Linked DNA regions of Homo sapiens. The protein of the gene in region 2 interacts with the protein of the main gene of each other region in a pairwise test. Each region holds a gene or a part of one and is shown on either strand. Other genes may lie near its edges.

The links.
Region 1: the proteins of RCHY1 (region 2) and HEXB interact in binary tests that used the Homo sapiens proteins (3 or more experiments, as listed by UniProt).
Region 3: the proteins of RCHY1 (region 2) and SEMA4C interact in binary tests that used the Homo sapiens proteins (3 or more experiments, as listed by UniProt).
Region 4: the proteins of RCHY1 (region 2) and NLK interact in binary tests that used the Homo sapiens proteins (3 or more experiments, as listed by UniProt).

The regions. Positions count from the first base shown.
Region 1 is NC_000005.10:74,709,227-74,716,249, forward strand, and holds part of HEXB (beta-hexosaminidase subunit beta isoform 1 preproprotein), read left to right. Parts: intron 1-4,279; coding exon 4,280-4,409; intron 4,410-6,283; coding exon 6,284-6,464; intron 6,465-7,023. UniProt on the Homo sapiens protein: Hydrolyzes the non-reducing end N-acetyl-D-hexosamine and/or sulfated N-acetyl-D-hexosamine of glycoconjugates, such as the oligosaccharide moieties from proteins and neutral glycolipids, or from certain mucopolysaccharides.
Region 2 is NC_000004.12:75,490,400-75,497,422, forward strand, and holds part of RCHY1 (RING finger and CHY zinc finger domain-containing protein 1), read right to left. Parts: intron 3,781-7,023; coding exon 3,702-3,780; intron 1,535-3,701; coding exon 1,490-1,534; intron 1,384-1,489; coding exon 1,325-1,383; intron 1,239-1,324; coding exon 1,212-1,238; exon of another isoform or gene 1,184-1,211; intron 303-1,183; coding exon 182-302; intron 1-181. UniProt on the Homo sapiens protein: E3 ubiquitin-protein ligase that mediates ubiquitination of target proteins, including p53/TP53, TP73, HDAC1 and CDKN1B. Mediates ubiquitination and degradation of p53/TP53; preferentially acts on tetrameric p53/TP53.
Region 3 is NC_000002.12:96,867,069-96,874,961, forward strand, and holds the start of SEMA4C (semaphorin-4C precursor), read right to left. Parts: upstream 3,013-7,893; 5' UTR 2,968-3,012; coding exon of another isoform or gene 1,960-2,967; intron 1,682-1,959; coding exon of another isoform or gene 1,517-1,681; exon of another isoform or gene 1,351-1,516; coding exon of another isoform or gene 1,306-1,350; exon of another isoform or gene 945-1,305; coding exon of another isoform or gene 819-944; coding exon 710-818; intron 1-709. Other genes in the region: collagen alpha-1(I) chain-like, read left to right, coding at 1,306-1,350, 1,517-1,681, 1,960-2,967.
Region 4 is NC_000017.11:28,038,644-28,045,696, reverse strand, and holds the start of NLK (serine/threonine-protein kinase NLK), read right to left. Parts: upstream 3,021-7,053; 5' UTR 2,824-3,020; coding exon 2,366-2,823; intron 2,360-2,365; exon of another isoform or gene 1-2,359. UniProt on the Homo sapiens protein: Serine/threonine-protein kinase that regulates a number of transcription factors with key roles in cell fate determination. Positive effector of the non-canonical Wnt signaling pathway, acting downstream of WNT5A, MAP3K7/TAK1 and HIPK2.

The DNA.
Region 1 (7,023 bases), on a different chromosome or scaffold from region 2:
ATATTCTTTGAAACCAACAAGAACAAAGACACAACATACCAGAATCTCTGGGACACATTCAAAGCAGTGTGTAGAGGGAAATTTATAGCACTAAATGCCCACAAGAGAAAGCAGGAAAGATCCAAAATTGACACCCTAACATCACAATTAAAAGAACTAGAAAAGCAAGAGCAAACACATTCAAAAGCTAGCAGAAGGCAAGAAATAACTAAAATCAAAGCAGAACTGAAGGAAATAGACACACAAAAAACCCTTCAAAAAATTAATGAATCCAGAAGCTGGTTTTTTGAAAGGATCAACAAAATTGATAGAACGCTAGCAAGACTAATAAAAAAAGAGAGAAGAATCAAATAGACGCAATAAAAAATGATAAAGGGGATATCACCACCAATCCCACAGAAATACAAACTACCATCAGAGAATACTACAAACACCTCTATGCAAATAAACTAGAAAATCTAGAAGAAATGGATAAATTCCTCCACACATATACTCTCCCAAGACTAAACCAGGAAGAAGTTGAATCTCTGAATAGACCAATAACAGGAGCTGAAATTGTGGCAATAATCAATAGCTTATCAACCAAAGAGTCCAGGACCAGATGGATTCACAGCCGAATTCTACCAGAGGTACAAGGAGGAACTGGTACCATTCCTTCTGAAACTATTCCAATCAATAGAAAAAGAGGGAATCCTCCCTAACTCATTTTATGAGGCCAGCATCATCCTGATACCAAAGCCGGGCAGAGACACAACCAAAAAAGAGAATTTTAGACCAATATCCATGATGAACATTGATGCAAAAATCCTCAATAAAATACTGGCAAACCAAATCCAGCAGCACATCAAAAAGCTTATCCACCATGATCAAGTGGGCTTCATCCCTGGGACGCAAGCCTGGTTCAATATACGTAAATCAATAAATGTAATCCAGCATATAAACAGAACCAAAGACAAAAACCACATGATTATCTCAATGGATGCAGAAAAGGCCTTTGACAAAATTCAACAACCCTTCATGCTAAAAACTCTCAATAAATTAGGTATTGATGGGACATATCTCAAAATAATAAGAGCTATCTATGACAAACCCCCAGCCAATATCATACTGAATGGGCAAAAACTAGAAGCATTCCCTTTGAAACCTGGCACAAGACAGGGATGCCCCCTCTCACCACTCCTGTTCAACATAGTGTTGGAAGTTCTGGCCAGGGCAATTAGGCAGGAGAAGGAAATAAAAGGTATTCAATTAGGAAAAGAGGAAGTCAAATTGTCCCTGTTTGCAGATGACATGATTGTATATCTAGAAAACCCCATTGTCTCAGCCCAAAATCTCCTTAAGCTGATAAGCAAATTCAGCAAAGTCTCAGGATACAAAATCAATGTGCAAAAATCACAAGCATTCTTATACACCAATAACAGACAAACAGCCAAATCATGAGTGAACTCCCATTCACAATTGCTTCAAAGAGAATAAAATACCTAGGAATCCAACTTACAAGGGATGTGAAGGACCTCTTCAAGGAGAACTACAAACCACTGCTCAATGAAATAAAAGAGGATACAAACAAATGGAAGAAAATTCCATGCTCATGGGTAGGAAGAATCAATATCATGAAAATGGCCATACTGCCCAAGGTAATTTATAGATTCAATGCCATCCCCATCAAGCTACCAATGACTTTCTTCACAGAATTGGAAAAAACTACTTGAAAGTTCATATGGAACCAAAAAAGAGCCCACATTACCAAGTCAATCCTAAGCCAAAAGAACAAAGCTGGAGGCATCACGCTACCTGACTTCAAACTATACTACAAGGCTACAGTAACCAAAACAGCATGGTACTGGTACCAAAACAGAGATATAGATCAATGGAACAGAACAGAGCCCTCAGAAATAACGCTGCATATCTACAACTATCTGATGTTTGACAAACCTGAGAAAAACAAGCAATGGGGAAAGGATTCCCTATTTAATAAATGGTGCTGGGAAAACTGGCTAGCCATATGTAGAAAGCTGAAACTGGATCCCTTCCTTACACCTTATACAAAAATCAATTCAAGATGGATTAAAGACTTAAACGTTAGACCTAAAACCATAAAAACCCTAGAAGAAAACCTAGGCATTACCATTCAGGACATAGGCATGGGCAAGGACTTCATGTCTAAAACACCAAAAGCAATGGCAACAAAAGCCAAAATTGACAAATGGGATCTAATTAAACTAAAGAGCTTCTGCACAGGAAAAGAAACTACCATCAGAGTGAACAGGCAACCCACAATATGGGAGAAAATTTTCGCAACCTACTCATCTGACAAAGGAAATATCCAGAATCTACAATGAACACAAACAAATTTACAAGAAAAAAACAAACAACCCCATCAAAAAGTGGGTGAAGGACATGAACAGACACTTCTCAAAAGAAGACATTTATGCAGACAAAAAACACATGAAAAAATGCTCATCATCACTGGCCGTCAGAGAAATGCAAATCAAAACCACAATGAGATACCATCTCACACCATTTAGAATGGCAATCATTAAAAAGTCAGGAAACAACAGGTGCTGGAGAGGATGTGGAGAAATAGGAACACTTTTACACTGTTGGGACTGTAAACTAGTTCAACCATTGTGGAAGTCAGTGTGGCGATTCCTCAGGGATCTAGAACTAGAAATACCATTTGACCCAGCCATCCCATTACTGGGTATATACCCAAAGGACTATAAATCATGCTGCTGTAAAGACACATGCACACGTATGTTTATTGTGGCACTATTCACAATAGCAAAGACTTGGAACCAACCCAAATGTCCAACAATGATAGACTGGATTAAGAAAATGTGGCACATATACACCATGGAATACTATGCAGCCATAAAAAATGATGAGTTCATGTCCTTTGTAGGGACATGGATGAAATTGGAAATCATCATTCTCAGTAAACTATCACAAGAACAAAAAGCCAAACACCGCATATTCTCACTCATAGGTGGGAATTGAACAATGAGAACACATGGACACAGGAAGGGGAACATCACACACTGGGGACTGTTGTGGGGTGGGGGAGGGGGGAGGGATAGCATTGGGAGATATACCTAATGCTAGATGACGAGTTAGTGGGTGCAGCGCACCAGCATGGCACATGTATACATACGTAACTAACCTGCACATTGTGCACATGTACCCTAAAACTTAAAGTATGATAATAATAAAAAAAAGAAATGCTTTAAATTTTAAAAAAAAATTCACATTTCTCCAACTGTCTTTTTCTCTTATTTAAAAAATTATTTTAAAACATTTGCAGTGGGATACAAATAAGCTCCATAATTGTGGTGAGTTAATATGTCTAGTAATTCTTTTTTGATCTACAGGTCTGCTCTTCCCACCTTTTTCTCCTGTAATTGTTGTTGAAGAAACTGAGTCATGTGTCCTACAGTTTCCCACAGTCTGGGTTTTGCTGATTGCACCCCACAGTGTCAATTAATATGTCCCTGTATTTACTATAAACTGGTAGTTGAATCTAGTCTTGATAGAAATTTGATTTGCAGTGCTGGGAGACAAGACTGCTTTTCCGCAACTGAGCACTTATAGGCCATAGTTTGAGAAATGTGCTAAGGAACAGCTCACAACTTTAGTTACAAACAATATTGAGTTCTAATTTTTCAAGTGACCTATAAAGGGACTGAGGTAATCATTAAAAAAAAACAAGTCACTTATTCTGGAGTCTATATGGGAATTTTTCAAGCTTATAGTAATTCAAGCTGATAGTCCTTTGAAGGACAACAGCTATGCTTTGTAATAAGGTGTGCATTTTGACTCTAAAATTGACAAGAGCAGTGTTTTCGGAAGTTTCACTTTGGAGACATTTGTTTTGTTGTATTCTTACATGGAAGTTGAAACAGCATGATAGTAGAAACTCTTGAAACAGGAGGCACTGATGGAGACAGATATTTCTACCAGTAAATCTGCGGTTAGCCCAAAGTATACTGAGAATTTATTGCTAAAATATGGTAAACAAATGATTTGACAAAAGCCCCAAAATGGCTATCATCCTTTGAGTATGTACGACTTAGTAGAAATTTTCTTTCTGAAATTTTCTACTCCTGAAACTATGGCACTATATTATTTTTAAATGAGTCATCTAATATCACATGAAACTAATACATTGTCATAGTGAAAAAATTAGCTGTCAAATATCAAATGCAAGCACAATTGTTAACAATTTCCAGGATCAAATCTACGTTGTACATTTTAACTTGAATAAATATGGCTTTTACAGGGAAGCTATTCTTTGTCTCATGTTTATACACCAAATGATGTCCGTATGGTGATTGAATATGCCAGATTACGAGGAATTCGAGTCCTGCCAGAATTTGATACCCCTGGGCATACACTATCTTGGGGAAAAGGTAAGGAGTTGTATTTTATTTCATTTTATCTTATTTTTTATTTTTTGAGATGGAGTCTTGTTCTGTCACCCAGGCTGGAGTGCAGTAGTACAATCTCGGCTCACTGCAACCTCCACCTCCCAGGATCAAGCGATTCTCCTGCCTCAGCTTCCTGAGTAGCTGAGACTACAGGCATGCGCCACCATGCCCAGCTAATTTTTGTTTTTGTTTTGTTTTGTTTTTTGAGACGGAGTCTCACTCCGTTGCCCAGGCTGGAGTGCAGTGGCATGATTTTGGCTCACTACAACCTCTGCCTCCCAGGTTCAAGCGATTCTCCTGCCTCAGCCTACTGAGTAGCTGGGACTACAGGCGCCCGCCACCACGCTAATTTTTTGTATTTTTAGTAGAGACGGGGTTTCACCGTGTTACCCAGGATGGTCTTGATCTCCCCTCCTCATGATCGGCCCGCCTCGGCCTCCCAAAGTGTTGGGATTATAGGCGTGAGCCACTGCGCCTGGCCAGGAGTTGTATTTTATAAGTTGCAAAAGTGAATATTTGAGGTATTGCATTTCTTATTTTATGACCTAGTGTTTGCTCATTTTGTTCTTAATTGTGATTGGCCTATCAGTAATACTATTGACAGATACAATTCAATAGCTACTCTGTGTCTATTGTGAGCAAGTCATTGTGATTAGGTACTGCCTAAAGTATAAAAAAGGGAATGAAAGAAAACAAAAAGTGATTACAAAAAGTAGAACATGATAAGTGAATTCAAGAAATGGTTTCATAGATGAGGTAACACTTAAAATGCTTTTGAGTGATCACAGAATATATTCATGTTTCTGGTAGAGGAAATGGCATAAGGAAATGTGTGCAAAAAGTGTAAGATATGCTTGACAAGTATGTAGCTGGAGTAGAGTGTAGCAGAGTAGGAGGCATTATAGGGTGGTGATTAAGAACTTTGGCTTTGGAGCCAGACAGCTTGGGTTTGAATCTTGCTTCTGCCATTATAAACTAGGTGACCTTGGGCAAGTTACAATATCTCATCTTCAGTTTCTCCATCTCTAAAATGAGAATTAGTAGTAGCTATCATGTAATTTTTTTGAGAATTAAATAATGTAAAGCACATAGCACAGTACCAAGCATTTATAATTGCTCAATATTATTAGAGTAGACATGGGGAATAGTGAGAGGTAAATCTGGAAAAGCACATTAGCGGGCCTTTGGTGAGGAATGTGAACTTCATCAGGACACACTGGAAACCAGTGAAAATTTCTGAGCAGAGGAGTAACATGATGGGAACCACACTTTGGGAAAACCTTTGGGAAAGTGACAGATTGGAGTTCTGGACCAGGAGGGTGATAGTGGGAATGTAAAATAATGGACAGAACTGAGAGACATTCTGGAAATATCCATAGAATTTGGCAACTGATGGACTCCAGGAGAGAGGAGGTATATACTCTAGGATGACGATGGTACCCTTATTAGAATACGAAAATCAGGAGAAGCTAGAGAAGGGAGCTTAAGGACTGCAGATGTTGTTTTTTGTTAGCTTGTATTTGAAGTACAGCTAGGATATTCAGTTGTATCCAGCAGGGAATTTGAAATATGAATTGAAGCTCAAGAAAAAGCGTTGAGGCAAACTGAAGATTTGGGAGTTACTAACATTTGACATAGATAAAATCTCAGATATAATGGGAAACAAAGAGGCAAAGAGACAGGATTCAGGAAACCCTTCTTATCTGGAAGAAATTACTAGCTCTTAGTAAACATGTTCATCTTTTGTGTATAAAATCTTGTAGCTTCAATAAAATGACGTAGTAAAATCATGTGGAAAACCAGATCTTTATAATGAGTACACTTCTTTTAAAAAGAATCTTAATATTTTCTTCTAGGTCAGAAAGACCTCCTGACTCCATGTTACAGTAGACAAAACAAGTTGGACTCTTTTGGACCTATAAACCCTACTCTGAATACAACATACAGCTTCCTTACTACATTTTTCAAAGAAATTAGTGAGGTGTTTCCAGATCAATTCATTCATTTGGGAGGAGATGAAGTGGAATTTAAATGTTGGTAAGATGATTCCTTAAAACCCCTTTAAAAAAAAAAAAAAGAGAGGCTGGGTGCGGTGGCTCACGCCTATAATCCCAGCACTTTGGGAGGCAGAGGCAGGCAGATCACCTGAGGTCAGGAGTTCAAGACCAGCCTGGCCAACATGGTGAAACCCCATCTCTACTAAAAATACAAAAATTAGCTGGGCGTGGTGGTGGGTACCTGTAATCCCAGCTCCTTGGGAGGCTGAGGCAGGAGAATCTCTTGAACCTGGGAGGAAGAGATTGCAGTGAGCTGAGATCATGCCACTGTACTCCAGACTGAGTGACAGAGTGAGACTCCATCTCAAAAAAAAAAAAAAAAAAAAAAAAATGGAATAAAAAACCTGTTGCATTGAAGTAGCTGTAGAGGGCTCCACACCATAAGGAAGACTTAAGAGTAACATGCCTGCTTGTAAGGGTTTAAACTGGGCAACATGACTCCTGAGATGGTAGATTTGTGGAGAATGTACATTTTGGTATGGCAAAGTAAAGCTTGAGGAAAAACAAGATGCAGAAGAAAATGGAGATTCAAAAAAAGA
Region 2 (7,023 bases):
TCCCGATCTGAGCTACTTAACTAAAATTTAAAAATCATTTTGTGCTTTCCATTAATCATCACATTAGCATCTGTGTCAAACCAGTATATATATATTTTTTTTTTGGCAAATTCAAGCAGGAGGGCAAAAATAAGAGTGCCAACAAGGAGTCTACAAAGTTTTAAGTATTGATTCTACTCACATCCACAGTCATGTTCTGATATTCTGATGGCATAGGAGTCTGTGCTACTTCATCATCCAGCTGTCTCCAATACCTGGTCATATCTAAAGCAGAGTGCATACATAATGGACATCTGTAGCCTCTGAAAGAGATAGAAAGGTTATTTTCCAAATATTAAACAAGAATATATTAATTCAGGTATACAAGAAGATGCAGGCTAACTGCCACATGAACCATTCAAAACAGGCATTTTCCTCCATTTCAAGATAATCTCTTAGGAACCTGGGAACTTTCACACTATAAAACTTTTAAATTAATTCCTGTATACTTATTTAAAACTAAGTCTTTTTCCTCAGTACTCTAAAATGGAGAGGAATTAGTCCATATTCTTTGTAGAATACACTTCATATATTTTTATAAACTAATTAAGCTACTCCTTATCTAAACAACCTTAATTTCTTAATACACTCATGTAAAGAGACTGTATTTGTTTAAAATTATTCAGATATTATTTCCTTTCTAAAAATTTGAAAAAAAGAATGCTCTCTCTAGCTCTTCACATTTTTGCTCATCAATATGTAGGACCAAAATACAGTCTTCTCTTTTCAATTATTTTCATCTAATTTTAATATCTTTTCCATTAATAAAGTCTTAGCTTTAATGATCACTTCACCTACTTTCTTTTAGTTTACTATACTTGGCCAATATAACAACCTAACAAATTTTTGGCAATATTTTTCAGCATTTTTACAACACTATAACTGCATCTGGCAAAAACTGCACTTCCTGGTATATATGGCCAGAAAAAAAAGAGGTAACTACCTCAAATTGTGGGAGGAGACAAGATTTAAGAGAAACATATGGCAAAAGTGTAGTTCTATATCCAAGACACTTTGTCCTGTTTTAACAATATTCATCTACCCTACCCATTTCAATATAAATATTGCCATGCCCAATATAGTATAAGTAACAATGTTTGTCCACCTCCCCACACCACACACACAAAAAAGTCAAACATCTTACAATTATTTTTAAAATCCCAAACACTCACTCTTTCAACATTTCTTCATAACACGTTCTGAAAGAAAATATAAGATTATTTTAGTAAAACAAAAACTGTCTCCACTATTTTCAAACATCATTGAGAAAAAGATGTTACTTTACCTATGTAAAAGATGTCCACATGGCAAGACATGAGCAACAACACGGGATGTGTGAATGTCCTGTAAATGAAATAAATGTTAGTGCTTGTATGAAGACAATATAAACATCCAAGTATTTTAAATTCAAGAGCTGAGACTTCCAAAGTAAAAAATATTTTAAGCCTACCTCCAAACATATTGGACAATTCTGTCGGGACACATTTTCAATACACTGTTTAAAAGAGAAATTCACATTAACAAAAGCTTAACTAGATTAAAATGTCAGGTATAAAAATATTAATAATAAAAATTAACAAAACCAACTTACTAAAAATAATAGCTAACATTAATATATGCTTTTTATATGTAAGAAGAGTTTTTTAATAGTTATTTAAATCTCACACTATTTCAGGCTTGGCATATTATCTGATACAATGAAAATGTCAATAAACATTATTGAGATTACCTTCATTTCACAAATAAGGAAAGTGACTTAGGAATTCAAGACACTTACCCAAGATCCAAAGATAATAAGATTTGGAACCTTTGCATATTATGTATGTTTTACTCCAAAGCCAGTGACCTAAATTAGTAAGCTCAACTTACTAATAATATTGGTAATAATAGTTCATATTATTGAAATTTACTACATGCCATGTTCAGCACAGTACCTGTATAAGATCAATTAAATCTCACAATCCTAGATGAAATAGGCTATGATTGTTATACCATTTTACAGTTAAAGCAGTGGAGGCCTAGAGAAGCTAAGGAACTTCCAAAGTCACACATTAATAAGAGGCAGAATTAAACTGGAGCTCCAGCAGGCTAACTTCAGAGCCAGAGTTCTTAATTTGACAAGATGTAATGTCTGATTAAATCCAAGGAGGTAAGGGAAAGCACTGTGCCATGGAAGACTCCCAGGTTTTTAACGGAAGCACTTAATAGATGGCAGGACCACTTAGTAATATAGACAATAAAAGATAACTGAAAAACAACATAACAAAAAAAACCATAACAAAAAAATAGATGTAAGTTTTTGAAAGATGACAGTATAGTGGGGAGAAAAACCCTCAAAATAATAAGCTTAATAGTAAGTTTAAAAATCTAGACTGTAATCCTAGCTCTGCTATTTACCAGCCCTTGAGATTTTGGACTAGCCACCACTTTAGTCTTAACGTTTCTTATTTATAAAATAAAATTAATACATATTTCATTTGATTCTAAAGTGCACCTCACACATACATTTTAACATCCCCACAATTACAACATATCTGATCATCAGTGGCATCTCTGAGTTGATGGAATGTAAATGCTGAGGTGAGGATGCAATGAATTAGTGTGTGCACACACACTACACATGCTTTGGAAACCAGAACATCATAGAAATGTAATCTATAAGATACTATTGACTCCTGGCTATCTCCATTAGCATAGCTTGCCATCACCCCAAACTCAAGTTTAAAAACCAAACTCAATCTTTTATCTTCAAAAAATTTACAATCTACTAATCAAGTACCTTAAGCTGGGGCTGAAAATCTTCAGAGTCATCTTTACTCTGCCTCATTCTTTTTCCTTAATACCATTACCACATCATATATGTTCATTATTCATCTCAATTTTCCTCACCACTTTACTATTTAGGCCAAGTTCTAGCTAATATTATATTTCTGCAATAACTTCTTATTCTTATATTCTATCGAACCTACTATACTGCTAAGTAAATGATTTCAAACAGTCTCTTTCCAATTAATGTCTATCTGTCTCTCTCTCTCTCAACAGCTACAATGTTGCTACTTATACTGTTCTGCCTTATCTGGAATTTCCTATACTTGAACAAGTACGATTTACACTTCACTTTACACCAATCCTCCATTCTCTTAATTAAATTCTTACAGTAGATAGAATCAGTACTATAATGTAATACTTTATTAGATTTTTTTTTAAATAATGAAAAAGGGCCTGGGATTGTGACATAATTCCTACATCCAGATTTAAAATATGTATGTCTTAATTATAAAAAGAAATAGTAAAATATTTTCTGAATTTTCTTAGAATGTTGTGCTAATTAGGTTACACCATTCAGTATTTCTCCTGTTTTAAAGTTATTCTTAAAAGCAGTACCAATGGTAAGAATCCATAAACTAACTTGGAAGTTGCCAACATTATGCTAGTAAGTGATATAAGCATTCTTACACTACAGAGAAGAAAAGGAACTGTAGGTCAGATATTCTGAGGTACATATTTTAAAATATCTACTTGTTAATACTGCTTTTCAAAAAAGCAATATAGTTGCACTTGGAAATACATGAAAATTAGCATGCTTCCAAAACATATTAGAAGTTAAGCTTATTGCAAAAACACTGTAATATTTTTAAAATTATACAAACTAAATTATATACCTTGTGTCTTCCTTGAAGATTCATAGCTAGGCATAAGTTACATTTCAAACAATGGAAAAAATCTTCCTTTGGACCAATCCTAGCAAAACACATGAAAGCCAAAAGATTAGATTATTTTTTACTACAGTCATGATTTGTTCATTATGTAAAACACAAGTTTAGTCTCTGTAAAAAAAATTTCCAGCCACAATGGAGAATATGGGATAAATCCCTATCTCCCCAACATCCCTCTCCAAATGTAAGCACTATACACAGAGTGGTATCTACCCTTCTAGGGCTTTTTTTTCTTTTTCTATAAAATTGCAAAAAGAGAGAAACACAGACACACACACACATTTCGGGTTTGATTTCTTACATTAATGGATTCTTTCTACAGATGCCATTCTGCAACTTTTTTTCACTTGATATATTCTGAGGATTTTATGTCTGTCTACACAGAACCACTTCATTCTTCTTAATAGCTACATTAATGGCATGGATGTATACTAATTTTTTTAAATATTCCCTCAGAAAGATCATAATTTATGATCTTTAGTTGCTACAATGATACAGTAAACATCCTTGTCCAGACATCACTTAGTTCACATGTTGATTATTTTTTACGAGATTCCTAGAAGTGAAACTACTGAGTCAGAAGATGTTGCAACATTAATTGTGATACTGCCAAACTGACCTCCAAATAGACAGTACCAATTTATACTTCCACCAACACTGCATGAGAGTAACCATGTTCCCCACACTTTGGGTAACATGGTTACTTGTATTATAGACAAACAAAAGATGTCATTTTAATTTGCATTTCACAAATAATGAGACAGGGACTGTACATTAATGAACTACTTGGATTTCTCTGTGGATTGTCTGTTCATATGTTCTGTCCATTTTTCTACTGAAGTATTTGTTTTTAACCAATTTACTGGTAAAAAATATATCATGAATATTAGTTATTTATATAATGAATATCAATGTTTTCATTCGCATGTATTATATTTATATATCACCAATATCAATTTTTTATTTGCATATTTTATATTTACTTTTCTGGTCTGTGATTTCTCTTAACTTTGTCATATAGCCATTTTTAATTACTATGTGGTAAAAAGTCATCAATATTTTCCTGTATAGCTTATGCTTTCTGCCTCTTGTTTAGGAAACTTTTGTAACCTATAGATCATAAACAGACTCTCCTATGTATACTTCTAGTACTTACAGCTTTTCATTTTTATATTTTTCTTTAATCCATTTGAAATTTGCTATATATGGCAAAGGTTAGATTGCTACTTGTCCCTAAATTTCTATTCTCCACTTCTTCTACAATGATAGGGTATTTAGCTAGGCACTGAGCTATTCAGAACTGTCCTGAATAAAGACTATTTTCCAACATACCTGGACGTTGGGAACAGAAGAGATACATGAAAATTCTGCATTGTACCCTCAAGAGGAAAAATATGCCTTCCCTTCACCTAACTAGCCTTTCTACAGACCAGAATATGAGGCATTTTAGACTACAGAGACAAGAAAATATCTTATGGGTGACAAGGCAAAAAACAAGAAGAGCCTGAGTTCCTGTTTAGCTACACAACTCAGATTTATTTCCATGAGAAATGAACTTCTGCCTTTCTTGAACCACCATTACTTTGGGTTTCTGTCACAAGATGCTAAATCCATACTCTAATGAATACAGTTTGAAGAGTCAATTTTTGGTTTCCGAATGGATAATCAATTATCTTAATACTACCCTTTCCTGATTTGAAATGTCACTTTTGCCATAAATTCATATGTATAAATATTTGTCTGTGTATATACACACACACATATTTATCTATTCGTCTATTCCTGCACAAACAGCAAACTATTTGAATTACTATAGCTTTATCATGTTTTGATATGTGGAACGGCAATCCACTCTTCGTTGTCCTTCCTTCAAAATTTACTCAGCTATTGTGAATTTTCTCTTACAAATGAACTTTAGAATAGGCTGTCAAACTCCATAAGTAAAATTCTGCAGGGACGTTTCCACTACTGCCAAAGATAGAATAACGGAGATCAGACCTACCCTCCCATCTGAAAAAATAATGACAAAAGACAGAATATATGAAACAGCAGTTTCACTGAACATCAGGCAACAACACAGAGTGATCTGTGAGAGATAAGAAACAAAGTAAGTGAGCCCTAAAATTGCTCATTTATTGCCTAGAGAGTTTTGAGGCCAGGACAGGTTAGAAGAACTAAGGGTGAGCTAGGAAGACATCATGATTGAAATGATGAGCTGAGACAGTCTAGAGAAACCAAGACAGATTCATAGGACAGAGCATCAGATAGGAGAGAGCTGCACAGAGAAACCTCTGAAATATTTAGTAGGATACCCATCAGCACATGGATGTAAGAAAACTACCCAAAGCCAGGGAAACAACCTTCTAAAGAATGAGAACAGTACTACTCACACATGGCTAGGAACAGTGCCTGATCCCATCAAACAGACTGGGGAAACTCATAATTCGCAGGCTCCGGGTGGAGTATTCAGAAGGATATTGCCTCAACAGTGGAGAATAGCCCTGGGATAAGCCCTTCTGTAGATCTACCTAACAAATTAGAAAAGTAAATCCCAGAAAGTCTAAACTGTTTCCAAGTAACTTAACTGCATCCCAAAATAAAGCTCAAGAAGATTTATAGGAATACAAAAATACCCAGCACTAAACATGATAAAAAGAAAAATCACATCTGATATCCAACCCACAATAACCAGGCAACAAAGAGGCAGAAAAACACAACCTAAAATGAGAAGAATAATCAATCAATCAACCCAGAACAGACACAGATGTTAGAATTAATACAGGGCATTAAAAGTTATTATAACTGTATACCATTACATTAAAAAAGTATTAAATATGAAAAATATGTTTAAAGACCCAGATCAAACTTCTAGACATAAAAACTACAATGTCTGAGATTTAAAAATACACTGATGAAACTAATGGCAAGTTTGATATTGCTAACAAAAAGGTTAGTCAACTTGAAGGCACAGTAACAGAAACTATCCGAAATGAAATAGGAAGAAAAGGGAATTTTTTTAAAACGACAGAGCATGAGTAAGCTGTGAGACAACTTCAAGCAACCTAACATACATGTGTTCAGTTGAGCCTAACGCTGCCTCCTACATATTTTAAGATCGTCCTAAAAGGCTTTGCTGTACATAGTTAACTGTAACCTAACTGGATGTGTTTACCTACAGTAACCTACTCTAGTACCAATCAATCACCAAGTTTCATCCAATCACAGGCAGTCCTCGGTTCAAACTGTGTTTAAATAAGGCAAATGCTGA
Region 3 (7,893 bases), on a different chromosome or scaffold from region 2:
GGCACTACGACATTTATACAGTCACGTGATTCCTACATCAGCTGCCAAATATGGCTGCCGACCTGTCCTCAGGGTCCCCCCAAACCAGCCTTAGTCTTTGCAGGCAACAATGGATCCAGACACAGACCGGCATGGCAGGGCTTCACTGGCACCCGAGTGGAGCCTGTGGGAGGTGAGCTCATCCCAGGTCCCCAGAGCGCACGGCTGATACAAACACCTGACATCACCTTTCACACGGGTGTGTGCACAGGGAGCACTGCTGGGTCCCCGCTGTGCCCCGGCAACCATGCGAGCATGTGCACATACACACACACTTCCAGGGCCACCAGAGTGTATGATGTGTACAGGGCAGTAGGAGGTCTTAGGGGGGCCTGGGGAGCCAGGGGAGAGAGCCTCCAGTTTATATTTATCCCGGTTCCAGTTTCTCTTTAGGCTCCCAGCGCCAGTGACAATTCAAGAAGCGAGGCGTGGAGAGGGCGAGGCAGAAGGCTCTCCCCCTCCCACACCTGGGCAGGCAGTCTGGGGTGGGGAGTTGGACAGAGCTCCCCCAGAGGAGGCTAATCCCAGGTCCCAACCCACACTGCCCGTTCTTCCAACTCGAGTTTCTTAGAAAGCTGTGCCACACACGTGAGAATAAAGCCAGCACACTATGGGGGCAACTCCTCAGCAGCCTGTCCCTGACTTCCTCCTCACCCCTCCAGGCACTCACCCCCAGAAGACACTGTCTTACGCGGCACAAGGTTCCACCACACCTCAGCCCCAATGCCCAGGCCCCACAGCCTTGCTGCCAGCAGCCAGACAGCCCAGTGTGGGGCCATGGCGCACGCCCCGGCTCTGAGCTTCAGGCCAGCTGTCCTGCTGAGGGAAAAGACATGGTCAGAAATCACAGCCAGAGAAAGCAAACCAGAGGGGCCCGCAGCAGGAGAGGCCACAGGACTCCTCATCAGGCCTTCCAGGAGCCCCGGTGCCCTCCTTCCCCTTCTCTTTGGAGGTGGACCTAAGTCCCCACACTTGGCCTCTGCCTAAAAGACCACAGGTCTCCCTGGGAAGCGGGGAGGAGTTGAGTTGGCTGAAGGCTAAACAGGCTCCGGGAAGCCCTCCCTGGCCTCCAGACCCACCACTACCTCTGCGCAACAGGAAATCATTTGAGAAATAAAAAGGGGACCCCCGCCCAACATACACACTCAGGCCTAAGAGGTTTGAGTTTCTTGAAAGAACCTCAGGCAGCAGGCCTTGCAGCCACTGGGGCTCCGGACCCTGCCAACACCTAATTCTGGGAGGAAGACTCCTTAGGGCGACGAGGGCATGCGGTGGGGTAGGCGGTCGGGAAAGCCCCAAAGGGGAAACCTGGTGCGGCCGGCTGCGAGCGGAGGTCCCGGTCCCGGCCTGTCCCCTTCCCCAGCGCAGACAATAGCCCTGCAGAACCCCAAACCCCGTTCCACATCAGCAGGGCAGGAGTGTGAGAAGGGCCGGGAGCGAAGGGGCCCAGCTTCCCGAGGCCCCTTTGTTGCCCAAGAGGGAGGCAGGAAGTGGGTGGGATGGGCGTGGAAATGACCAGGGCCTCATCCTGTTCCTCGCACTGCCTCCTCCGAAACACCAGCCCTCTGGCGGAGGGGCGGTGGGGGGACCGAGCTCGGGTCGAGTCGGGGACTCCGGCGGCGCGCGCAGGCGACGGGGGGAGGTAGGGGCGGGGACGCGAGGGGGTTCCTCCCGGGCCGCTGGCAACGCGCCGCGCACGGCCGGCACCCGCTGCGCTCCCGCGACTCTGACGAACCTTCCCAACTCGGGGACTGCGCCCCAGGGACCCTGGCCTGGGCGGGCCAGCGGGATTGGCTTCCCCTGCTCCAGCCTTCCCGTGCCAGGGGCGGAGACGCAGAAGCTGGGGACCTGCTCACCCCCAAACAAAGGGTCCCCGCCAAGACCCCGTCCCGGGTCCCCCCGGGTTCTCCCCTCCCCCAGCTCCAGGGATTTGAACGCAAACAAAGCGGCGGCGCGGGGAGCGTGGCGAGCCCGGCCTGCGGACGCCCCCTGTCGGCCCAGAGCCCCGGCGCGGGAGAGCGGGGGCTGCGCCCCAGACCAGCCCCCCAAAACGCCCGCGGCCTCATCTCGGCTCCTTACCCGAGGATCGGGCCGCACCCCGTGGCGTGCTCCGAGGATCCGCCCGGCAGCGGTGCTCCCACCCGCAGCTCCCCCCAGGGCGAGGAAACGGGCAGCCGGGAGGAGGGGTTGGGGGGAGGGGTGCGGGATCCAGGCGGGGCACCCCACACCCTCGCCCACCCCGAGCGGCCAGCCGTGGACCGCGGCCCTCCCTGCAGGGCGAGCGCTCCAGCCGGGGACGGCGCGGCCCGGCTCGGCCCGGGGGCCTGGCTTTCCGGGACAACCCGCCTCCCCAGCGGAATGGGCGGGCGGGCGGGGGGCCGCGGCAGGGAAATCCGATCCCACAACATCGGCCTCCCTCCAAGCCCGCCCCAAACTTTCCATCGGGGGTGGGAGCGCCGAGGGCAGTCCAGGAGCCTGGCGAGGATCCCGGCCGCGGACCGGACCGCGCGAGGAACCCTCGCTGGCGCGCCCCTCCGGCCCCGGGGCTGCGGGGCTGCAGGTGCTGTGCGCCCCACTCCCGAGACCCTGCGAAGCAGCCGCGGGGGTCGCAGGAAGGATCCCCGCGTACAGCCGTCTCCGCCGCCGCGGCTCCCCGCGCCCCAGCCCCTGTCCCTCCCGCGTCCGGCAGCCCCTGCCCAAGCAAAGGGACAAAGCGGCGGCTCCGGGGCCCCGCGGCTCCAGCCTCACGCAAGCCCGGCCTCGCTCACCTATTGCGCGCAGCTCCAGTCCCCGGGCGCCGCCCTCGCGTTCGGCTCTGACCGCCGTCCACCCCTGCCCCCGCGTCGCCGCCTGCCCGCGCTCGCCCGCCAGCCCTCCGCGGCCTCTCTGCCACCGCCCCTCCGTCCCCGCCCGGCTCCGCGCCCCTAGGCTCGGGCTCCCCGCGCCACCACGGCGGGCGCCGGCTCTTTCTCCAGCGCGGCCGCGGCTCTCCGCCCCCTTCCCCTTGACGTCAGGCTGGGGGGGTCGAGCGGAGGCCGGGGGCGGGCCGCGAAGGCTCGCTCAGGAGGGGGCTGCGACCCGCAGCGACCTGTGGACCCGCCCGCTCTCCGCCCGGGGGCTCGGACCTCCGCCTCTCTGGGTGCCCGGACCTCAACCCCTCCGGGTGTCCAGCAGCCCCGGGGCTCGGAGTCGCGGGCTGCGCCACAGCGCCTGGAGGGAGGTGGGGCGGGGGAGGGACTCCGGGTATGGCCACGGGGGAATCACACTCACCCGATCTTTCTGAAGTGTCCCCCGAAGACTCCGGGCGGGCTGGGCTGGGGAGAGGGACTCCCGACCGTGCAGTTGCAGGAACGACCGCGGGCGAGCCACGTCGAGGCGAGTATCCAGGGGAGGCACGCTGGGGGAACCGAGGCGTCTTTTGGGGCGGACCAGAGGGGTCTGCCGTTTGGCCCCCAATTCTGCCTCTTTCTAGGCCCCGAGGACCACTGGTCCCTGCCCTCAAGTCTGGAAAGGGCTTCACCAGCCAGGAAGACCCTTCAATCAACAGAAAGGGCCTGCTCCTGCTTCTCACGCTTTGGGCAAAGCGCCTATCCCCAGAAAATGACTCCTCGTGCCACTGGAAGGCTGATTAACAAGTGGCATGAGCCCTACTGTTCAGATGAAAGGGGCTGTGGGGAGCCACGCTGCAGAACCACCGCCACCTTCAGAACCACCAGCCTCCGCCCACAGCCACTCCTAGAAGCAACTTGTAGCTCTGGCCTCATGGGCGGTGCAGCGTCTTTCCTGCCAGCTGGTCCTCTGAGCTGGGCAGGTGGTTAGAAGAGGTGGTCCTCATGGAGGACACCCCACGGGCACCTGGAGACAGATGCTACCTCCTGGCTAGGGGCAAAAGGCAGAGGTGAAGGGGCTTGACGTCCTGAGGTTTGGAGGTAACTTTAAGCCAGGGTGCAGTCCTGGAGGGGAGGAACACTTCAGGCTGCGTCAGCAGATCTGGATTATAAATCAGTCCGACAGCAGCTTTTGTTCTGGGTTAAAACTTGGCATCTGAAAAGTGGAGACCAGAAAAGTGGTGGAGATAATTGAGAAAAGCAGCCCAGTTTGGTTTCAGTAACAATCGGGTCTTTGCTGGTACACATAATGGCCCCTTCTCCCTTGCTGGCCAAAGCCACGTTTCCCAGCTCTTTTCCACTAGGAAAAAGAAAAAAAGCTGTGGCCTTGGAGATGCTGGAGATAATGACCATGGGGTGGGCAGGGAAGGCCTCCTGCTTCAGCTGACAAGGTGGGAGAAGGTGTGTCACCCTCGTGTTTAGTTTATTCCCCGTATCTATTCAAGCGGAGGGTAAACTGAGATGCAAGTGCCCTCACTTGTGTTCTGTGCTTTAGATTTTTGCAGCTTGTCTTGATGTACATTTTCTTACTTCACCCTTATGACCACCCTTTAAAAAGTAAGTAATTTGGGAGGCTGAGATGGGAGGATCACTTGACCCCAGGAGTTCAAGACCAGCCAGGGCAACATACTGAGACCCTGTCTCTACAAAAGAAATTATTATTATTATTTTTTTTTTGAGACAGAGTCTCACTCTGTCACCCAGGCGGGAGTGCAATAGCGCGATCTCGGCTCACTGCAACCTCCACCTCCTGGGTTCAAGTGATTCTCCTGCTTCAGCCTCCCAAGTAGCTGGAATTACAGGTGCCTGCCACCAGACCTGGCTAATTTTTGTATTTTTAGTAGAGACGGGGTTTCACCATGTTGACCAGGCATGCGCCACCATGCCCAGCTAATTTTTGTATTTTTAGTAGAGATGGGACTTCGCCGTTTTGGTCAGGCTGGGCTCGAACTCCTGACCTCAGGTGGTCCACCTGCTTAGGCCTCCCAAAGTGCTGGGATTAGCCACTACGCCCAGCCCCAAATTAAAAAAAAAAAAAAACTAGCGGGGCGTGGCGGGGAGGGGTGGCTCACGCCTGTAATCCCAGCACTTTGGGAGGCTGAGGCAGGCGGATCACGAGATCAGGAGATCCAGATCATCCTGGCTAACATGGTGAAACCCTGTCTTTACTAAAAATACAGAAAAATTAGCCAGGCGTGGTGGCGGGCGCCTGTAGTCCCAGCTACTCGGGAGGCTGAGACAGGAGAATGGCGTGAACCCAGGAGGCAGAGCTTGTAGTGAGCCAAGATCACTCCACTGCACTCAAGCCTGGGCAACAGAAGGAGACTCTGTCTCAAAAACAAACAAACAAACAAACAAACAAACCAAACTAGCGGGGGCGTGGTGGCATGCATCTGTAAGTCCCAGCTACTCAGGAGGCTGGAGTGGGAGGGTCGCTTGAGCCCAGGAGGTTGAGGCTGCAGTGAGCTGTGATTGTGCCATTGCACTCCAGCCTGTAGAGCGAGACCCTGCCTCGACAAAATTAAAAAAATAAGTATTGTTGCTCCCCTTTTGGAGATGAGTCAAAAAGATTAAACAACTAGCCCCAAGTCATGGAGATAATTAAAAAAGATTAAACAACTAGCCCCAAGTCATGGAGATAATTAAAAAAGATTAAACAACTAGCCCCAAGTCATGGAGATAAAAAGGTCAGAATTTCTTTTTTAGAAACGGGGTCTTACTCTGTTGCCCAGTCTGGAGTGCAATGGCACAGTCATGGCTCAATGTAACCTCAGACTCCTGGGCTCAAGCGGTCCTCCCACGTGAGCCTCCCAAGACTACAGGTGCACACCATCATACACGGGACAGGGTCTCGCTATATTGCTCAGACTGGAAAGTTCAGATTTTTAAATCAGGTCTTGGGACTCCCGATTCTGTTTTTCCACAGAGTCACCATCTATCCTGACAATGCTCCATTTCATGCTGTTTTTCCTCACCTTCAATACTGCTCCCCCATCCCCCCACCTCTAGGTGTGAAGGTTACCAGGAGAGACCTGAGCTCGCTGGCTCTGACTCCAAGGTGGCCTCAGTGGAAAGTTTCAAAAGGCAACCGGTTTGGTTTCACTGGCAGGGCAGCGGCAGGCGTTTGGGTTCTGGAGGCCCAGGAATGTAGAAGCCTCCAGCTAACAGACTCCACGCGCCTATCCTCCCAAACGCTCTCGGAGATAAGCTCCCAGCTCCCTCCCCTTTTCCACCTTCATGCACTTCCTGCTGTATTCTGTCCATTCCAGCACTGGCCCTTTCTGTGGGTGGGTGGGCAGAGGATACAATTTCCTGCATGACTACTTGCTCATGATTCATACTTCTAAATGAAAGTACAACTGATATAAAAAAAAGATTTCTGGGTCTTCAATTAATAAAAAAATTACTAATACAGGTACCGGGGGTGGGGGGAGGTGCACGTACCTGACTAGTCTCCCTAGGGCCTAGCATATCTATGGAAGGTATCCACACTTTGGGACTCAGGCCTTGACAACTGCTTGTGGTCGTGTCAAGGAAAGACACAGAAATTGTGCTAAATGACTCTCAAGGGTCTTCAAAGATCACCCAGCAGCTCAGGCCAGCCCCTAGAGATGACCTAAAGAGTCTTTCCTGAAAAGCAAGTCCCCCTTCCCATCTCTTGATGTTGGTTGGGGGCCACACTGCCCTTCATTTGAGCTACTCACCTACTAGCTCTCCTGAGGCAGCCAGAGGGAGGCCCTGGGTGGACACTGGGTTCTCTGGTGAACGCTGCCTGGTGGATTTCCAAGGCAGCCAGGACTGCCGTCATCCCACAGATGGGGAAGTGAGAAAGCTTGGGTCAGCGCGCCTGGGGACCGAGGTGACTAGGGACATAGGAAAAGGACTCTCCCTCCCTACTTCCTCCAAAGGAGAGTTATCAAAGCTGCCCACCTGGGATGTCTTTCCCTTCCCAGCCCCTCCCTGTCACCAGTACCAAAAGGAAGCAGGAAAACATCCGTCATCACAGCCCCGGATGCGGATTTTCCAGTGGCTCCTATCAGGATATCCCCCAGCCTTTTCCCAAGGGCTTAGGGATCTGGAAAAGTCAAAGATCTGGAGGGCAAGTGGTCACATTGCCAGCACCACTGTGAAAATCTGGACCTTGGGGAGGCTGAGTCTCTAACCGATCCCAGACTAGTTTTAGAAGATCTGGTCAGCTCCCAGCCAGTCCCAGAGAGGGCCCATTACACACCCCAGGGGACAGCATACGCCCTTGGGCGACCTCACAGTGCACACCTCTGCTCGGGTTACAGCCAGGTCTCTGGAGGGACTGAGTCGTCACCGACACCTCCTCTCCCCTTGGTATCTATTTCTCTCTTGGGGATGGGTATGTTTGGGGAGCAGTAGAGGAGGGGACAGTGGACAAGAGCCAGGACTGGGGAGGAAGGCTCCAGTTATCGACGCTGATGGACAGCTCGGCTCCTTCTCAGAGCCAGGTAGGGCCACCTTCGAGAACTGGAAACTCCCCCTGTTTAGCTTCTCAGGCCTCCCTACTTCCTCTTTGCCCTTGGCAGTAAGAACAAAGAAGGGAAATTTCAAAGGTGATTTCCAGGTTTCCAGAGAAAAGTGAATAGCTACAGATGAACTGTCAGTGCATGCAGTGTTGGAGCAGGGCAGCCCGAGGGCGGGTGAAGGAGGCTGGCTCACCATAGTCCCTGCTCGTTCACTGGAGGATCTGAGGTTGACCTGATGCTGCCGGGGCTTCGGGGGTGCCCGGGCCATGGGGGCATGTGACGCAGCCAGGAACAGAAACTTGAACTGTCACGGAGGTCGCTTGGCATCTAAGTCACCCTGGCCGAGGGTTTCTTCCCCCTCTCATTTGGCAAAGGCTGCTAGGCAGAAAGGCGTCCTGTGTGGTATCCAGCACTGTGCTGTGCGTGTGCCCGTGCCCCTGAATAATAGATGCCCCCAGCTCCTAGCATTCTGG
Region 4 (7,053 bases), on a different chromosome or scaffold from region 2:
TTTCAAATATAATAAGGAATTCAGACAGCAAGTCATTGACATGTAAATATAAAAATAGAAAAGCATTTGCATACTAAAACATACACCTGGAACTCTTTCCTTTTTCATACCAAATTGTATTTCACCTGTAACAGCTGATGAAAACACTCAATGCAGTTAACTAGAAAAACTTGGTTAAAAAAACAAAGACCCGAATCACGTGATAACACAGGAGGACGGCCATCCACAAGCCAAGCAGAGGGGCCTCAAAAGAAACCAAACCTGTACCTTGATATTGGATTTCTAGCCTCCAGAACTGTGAGAAATAATTTTCTGTTGTTTAAGCCAAAACAAAGAAGGACCTGACTAGATCAATTAACCAAGCAGCAAAGATGCCAAAGCACTGTGCTAGGCGCTGAGGAGAAAAGGATTACTACAGTAGACAATCCTTACCCTCAAGGGGCTTACGAATGTAGTCAGTGACACAAGACAAACCTGAAGTAAGATGGTGCACAGAGGTGTACTTTAAGTACATGAGACAAACTCCATAGGTGGTAGAGCAGTCAATCAATTAAAAACCTCTAGAATGGCTTCAAACCAAATATATGTGGGCTTTCAGATATCAAAGATTCATAGTACCCACTAGCAGAACGTTTGCTGTGTGAGATGTTTCAGCACTCCAGTTCTTTATTGCCCCCTTCCTTAAAAAAATAAATAAATAAAATAAAAACTGCTACAAGTCACATCACTTTTTGATAGAAATGTAAGTGAAAAATGCCTTTTGAATATATTCAAGAATGCTGCAACCCATTTCCCTTTCAGTATCCCTAGTTTTTAGCATTGTATGTAAGGCACTAAAAAAGAAAGTAAGCATCCAGATCTAAGAAGATCCAAACAAGTGCTAAAAGTTATTAGTAAATCAATGACAAAATTTAAACCAAGGAACAACCGTTTTCCTGTCTGTTCCATCCCCCAACCAAAGCTTGGAAATCCTCAAGAGTTAGGCAAGGATAAGTTCACAGTTAAATCTCTGAGATAGTCTGTGGAAGGGAAGAGAGGAAGGCAGGAACAGGCAGGTCCCTGAGCAGAATGACCAAGGCACCATTACCAGCTATACTCTTTTCCACCTTGAATCCCACACACCTTGAAGAAAGGACCACGCTGCAGCAGAAACTTCCTTGGGGACTAGCTGAGAAAACACTGGACTCTACTAGTTTTTTTAAAAAATGGATGAGATCACTTAGCAGCCTAGATTATCAAATCTGAAATATAAATAAGATGGCCAGTTAAAATGCATAAACAATGCACCCATCAATTTTAGCCTCAAAAACAATGACGAAAGGAGATATTTACCGGGCTAGTTCCAAAGAGTTCATTTTCCTGTGGTAATGGGCGCTTTTCTCGGGAGTAACAATTTTTGAATGCACTGAAAATATCAATTCATCTATCCAAAGTGGAATCATTAGTCCTTGGGAGAAAACCCAGTTCATTCTAGTTTTGATAGGAACAAACATATTTTATTATAAACTACTAATCTTTCTAAGGTTAGACCAAATAGACCAAAATGTTATATTTAAGAAGCCCTTAGGCTTTTACAAATATCCTAGCACTAGCAAAGGTAGGGTCATTTGTTAAAAAAGTATTATTTCCTACTACAGCAACTGACCAACAGATAACAGCAACTTAAGAGGCACTAAATGACACTAAAACATTACACTGAATGTGGGCCACTGCATAGCTAGTCTACTAACCTCATTTGTGGTACTCATGTGTGATGCTATATTTAATGCATTCTTATCAAAAGGCTACAGCTACATACTTCTCAACTGTAGCTTTATGGTTTAAAATAAACCACTCAAGCAATGATCTTAACTGGTTCAACTATGAATCCTATCTTTCTTCTGGAGATCAAGATCACAAAATAAGTGAAAAGACAGAAAGGACAGGAAAGTAGTTATGCAAAGTATATCCTAATGACAAGAGTATTATAAAGGAATTCAGTCTGGATCAGGTGCTAACACTTAATGCCACAGGGCCACTGAATCAAACACACGAGATGACCAAGGTCTTCGTAGGAATTAGTATTGCATACATTCATCTACTGATCCTGTGTTCAGTGGCTTGCTTAGGTTCTAATAGAAAAGTTTGGTAGACAGCACACTTATGTGTGTTGCTCATGAGAAGGCGCTCCACCAAAACTTGCCATGAGCCTAGACAGCCAATGCATTAGGCCTCTTTACCACATAAGTGAGGGTGGCTTCCTACAGTTGGGTTGAGAAGCTTGCTGCACCTTGGTCAACATGGAGACAACCATTAGAGATGGACTCATCCAATGACAACCAACAGAAGAAACCATGAGAGGTTGTGTTTTTCTTTGGATACTCACCAGACAACACCAAAGGCTCCATATCCAATAGGTCTATCCGGCTCAATATCCAGCTGCTGCTGTGGATGATGCGAGTGCTGATGATGGTGCGCCTTAACTGTAGCAGCTGCGGCAGCCTGTACCTGAGCTGGGGCTGCTGCAGCTGGTCCAGGAGCCTGCCCCGGTGCCGGTGATGGGAAATATGGCTGTTGTTGCCCAGGGTTTAACATGGCTGCAGCTGCAGCCGCTGCTGCGGCTGCCGCAGCTGCCGAAGAGGTGTGCTGCTGTACAGGGTGTACAGCGGCAGCCGACCCCGGATGAAGATGGTGTTGAGGGTGGTGGTGGTGGTGCAGGTGAGGAGGAGGGAGGTGTGGAAGGTGGTGGTGATGGTGGTGGTGGTGACCTGCTGCTGCTGCAGATGTACCGCCATTGTAAGCCGCCATCATTTTTGCGTTGGCTCTTGCGCCACAAAGAGACATTCAAAATAAATGCCCTTTGATTGGAAAGCAAACTGGGTCAAGCTGTCATTTGGCCATTTAAAAATGAAGAAAAACCACTCACTCCACCTCAAAAAACATAGAGCTTTATGTCTTCATCAGTCAATCCAAACAAGTTAGAGGATCTTGGTGTTTAATTTTGGGGTGAGCGTGTGTGGAAGGGTGTGGGTTGCCAAAAGGAAAAAAAAGGGAAAAAAGAAAAGAAAAAGGAAAAAAGGACCCCTTCCCCCCAGGATTCCTGCCACAAGTGGGTACTAAAACTCCATTCTTAATTTGGGGGAGGTTCCAACTTTGAATGTGGGAATAAAGGCCAAACCTCCCGACCCCCTGAACTCCACACACGAAAAGGATCAGGTAACACACCACCCTTGGAATCTTGAAAGAGGGTTGACTCATCTACCCCTTCCATTCCCACATCCTTTTCTAAACACCTACCACCTCCTCAAAAACAGGATTAAAAAAAATTCCCACCACCCTAAATGGAGAAGATGGGGGGAAATTTTCTGGGAAACCAGCTTCCAGCTTCCCCCCCCCCGAACTCTCAGGCCTTCCTACATCTCCCCCTACTCCTAGTCAGGTTGACCTGATTGGGGAGGGGGGGCGGGGGTTCCAAACTTTCCTGGGCAGAATAAGCCAGGGAAGGAGGCTGGAGTGAGGAGAGGAGGCGACAGCAGGACAGAGAGGAGAAAGAGAGCCGGGGCAAAAGTGAAGGGAAGGAGGTGCAGGGAGGAATGAAAGATGTGGGCAGCGCTCGGACGCCCAGACGGAGGGAACCGCCCCGGGAGAAGGTTAGGGTCCCGGGGCCAAAGAACAGGAGCCCCGGGAGGCGGGCGGGGTACGGTCGGAAGCGGGCTGACTCCTGCCCCCGCCGCCGGCTGCTTCTGCTGAGGAGGGTTGGGGGGGAGAGCGGGTGGGTCCCCCGCGCAACGGCCCCGCAGGGCTCAAGGCTGCTCCGTCTCCCCCCCTCCCCCCCACCCGGCTTCCGTCCCCGCGGCCGCTTTCTCCTCAGCCGCCGCGGCCGCCTTCTCCTCAGCCGCCGCCTCCTCAGCCGCCGGTTCCGCCGCGGCCGGACTCACCTCCCCTAGCAAAGCCGGATAGAGCGGAGCCAGCGTCGGACACGCGCAACCAGCCGCCGAGGCCCCGCCCCCGCCTTGCACGGACCGGCTGCCCTAGCCAATCCACGCCCACCTGTCCGCCACCGCCTCCAATCCTGGGCCAGGAGCTTCAGACAGGCGCACTGTTCGGCCAGTGGCAACAAGGTGTGGGTCTTCCGGGGAAATCCCGCCCCCGATCCGGGATGGGCAGATAGAAAGACCAATCAAAGGCAGAGTTTGGCTTGACCGACAAGGCTTAAAGCCAATTAAAAAGCAAAGATCTTTGTGACATTTTTCTTTCGCCTCTCTCCTCTTTTCTTCTTCTTCTTTTATTATTTATTTTTTTTTTTTTGGCAGGAGCAGGAAGCTGCGTGGTAATCCCGCCTGCAAAAGCTGGAAGAGAGGGGCGGAACGAAAGAACCAATCATGAGCCAGAGACAAAGAACAGAGTAACCAATCCTTGGGTTGAAAATGAAGTGGGATGGAACCTGGGCCAAATAGACACTTGAAAAAACAAATGGAAAAAAAAGGTTGATGTAAGTCCCACCCTTTAGATCTCCTATAGGACAGGATTGTGGAGAATTTGCTGTCATATCGAGACAACCTCTTCAAGGGGCGGGGCTTAGGGAAGGGGTGGGGTCTTAAAGTGGGCGGGACCTAGACGAAGAAGGCGGAGTCCAAATCATCACTGGTCCACTGATCCGAGATGTCCAATATCCCACTTAAGATGTAAAGTGTGGGGTAAAAAATAGGGGAAGAAAAAGGGAATGTTGAGCTTCAGAAACTCAAGGTCCAAGGTCACTCAACAAGAAGACAAAGGAAACTCAAAAGACTGACAGAAACTCAGTAGACTGACAGTTCGTAGTCTACGGCCGGTCCTCTCCATAGTTAATCCTGATCTTGGCAAAAAGAGGAGGAATCTCTGGCATTCAGAACTCCACTGTCGACAAATGATAAAGCTGTTGGTGCAAATTAAAACAAAAAAAGTAAACTTGACCACAAAAATAATAATTTTCCTCTATCTTTCTTTCTTAACAGGGTCACATTCTGTCACCCAGGCTAGACTGCAGTGGCACAGTCCTAGCTCACTGCAACCTCCAACTCCCGGCTCAAGCAATCTTCCCGCCTCAGCTTCCCGAGTAGCTGGGATTACAGATGTGCATCACCATGCCCGGCTGATTCTTTAATTTTTTAGAAACAGGGTCTTAATATGTTGCCCAGGTTGGTCTCAAATTCCTAGGCTCAAGAGATCCTCCCACCTCCCACCTTGGCCTCCCAAAGTGCTGAGATTACAGGCGTGAGCCACCGCCTCCAGCCTCTCCCATATTTTCTATCAAGTAAGTTTCTGTCATTGAAATCTTACTAAAATAGCATCTTTCCATCACTTCATTTATCTGAATTTACCCTTCCTTTAAAATGTGAAATAATAAGCTTACAGAACCTTATCCCTACTGAAACTGTATAGTTTACTCAAAAACTTGGAAGTCATCTTCGATCCCTCCTTTGCCTGTCCACATTGTCCCTTCCAATCTATCAGTCATCAAGTCTTCTTTTTTTTTTTTTTTTTTTTGAGACATGGTCTCTGTTGCCCAGGCTGGAGTGCAGTGGCATGATTACAGCCCACTGCAGCCTCCACCTCTTGGGCTCAGATGATCCTCCCACCTCAGCCTCCCAAGTAGGTGGGACTACAGGCACATGCCACCACACCTGGCTAATTTTTGTATTTTTTTGTAGAGATGGGGTTTTGCCATGTTGCCCAGGCTGAATCATCAAGTCTTAAACAATTTTAAATCCCCCTCACTTCTGCTACTTCCCAGTCACACAGCATTTACCCAAATTTACACCACTAACATCTTTAACCATTTCCCTGCCTGCAAGCTAGCTCTCCTTTGATCCATCCCCCTCTGGGGGCATAGTAAATTTTTAAAAATACAAATCTGAGACCAGGGGCAGTGGCTCACACCTGTAATCCCAGCACTTGGTGAGGCCAAGGTACGTGGATCCCTTGAGTTCAGAAGATCAGTCTGGGCAATGTGGCAAAACCCCGTGTCTACAAAAAATACAAAAATTAGTGGTACACATGTCTCTAGACCCAGCTACTGAAGAGGCTGAGGTGGGAGGATAGCTTGAGCCAGGGAGGTAGATGCTGTAGTGAGCTGAGATCCCACCAGTGCACTCCAGCCTGGGTGACAGTGAGATCCTGTCAAAAAAAAAAAAAGGCTGGCTGTACCCCTAAATAGCCTGGCATGATCTGGTTCCTGCCTACCTACCTCAAGGGTCTTATCTCTCCCTTCCACTCCACACTTCAGACATTCTGAACTTCCTGCAGCTCCTTGAATGCTTTCAAGCCTTCATGTATATCTTCAGCCCAAAACATTTCCCGCTCATCCTTCACTGCTCTAATTCATCCCTCAGGTCTTCGTGTAAATTTTACTTTTTTTCCTGGAAAGTTCTAACTCTGTTCTAGAGTATACGTTTCTGTTGTATATCTCCATGACACTGCCTCCCTCATATCGATATTTTAAGTGCTTGTTGAGTTTGACCGGGGACAGAGAGCTTGTCTGTCTCACTCAATGTTGTATGCCCAGTTCCTTAGGACAGTGCCTGAAAAAAAAGAAGACACTTGCTACAGATTTGCCTGAATTACTGAGTGCAGAAGTGGGTACAAACCCAAGCTCTGCCATTTACTTACTCTATAGTTTAGGCAACTTAACTAACCTTTCTCAATCTCAGTTGCCTCAACTGAAATAATACATGACTCATGAGGTCTATATGAGGGTTAAATGAGGTGATGTATTTAAACGTGCTTGGCAAATAGTGAAAATGCAATATAAATTCTCTTCAACACTCACCCTCATGTAATATTTGAGATGTTTCCAATTTTCCAATGCACAGCACTCTCCTCCAAAGTGTAGTTTCCTAAAAGCTTCTTAGATGTTCAGCAAATTATCTGGTTTCACCTCAGACCTACTGAATAAGAATTGGAGGAGGAGAGGAGGAATCTGTTTAACAAGCTCTCCAGGTCATTCTTACAAACGCTAGAGCTTAAGAAGCACAGGCCTAGAGTAAAGGAGCTTAGTCTTTGTAAACTTTCTTTTTCAGCGCTTAGTATAGTACT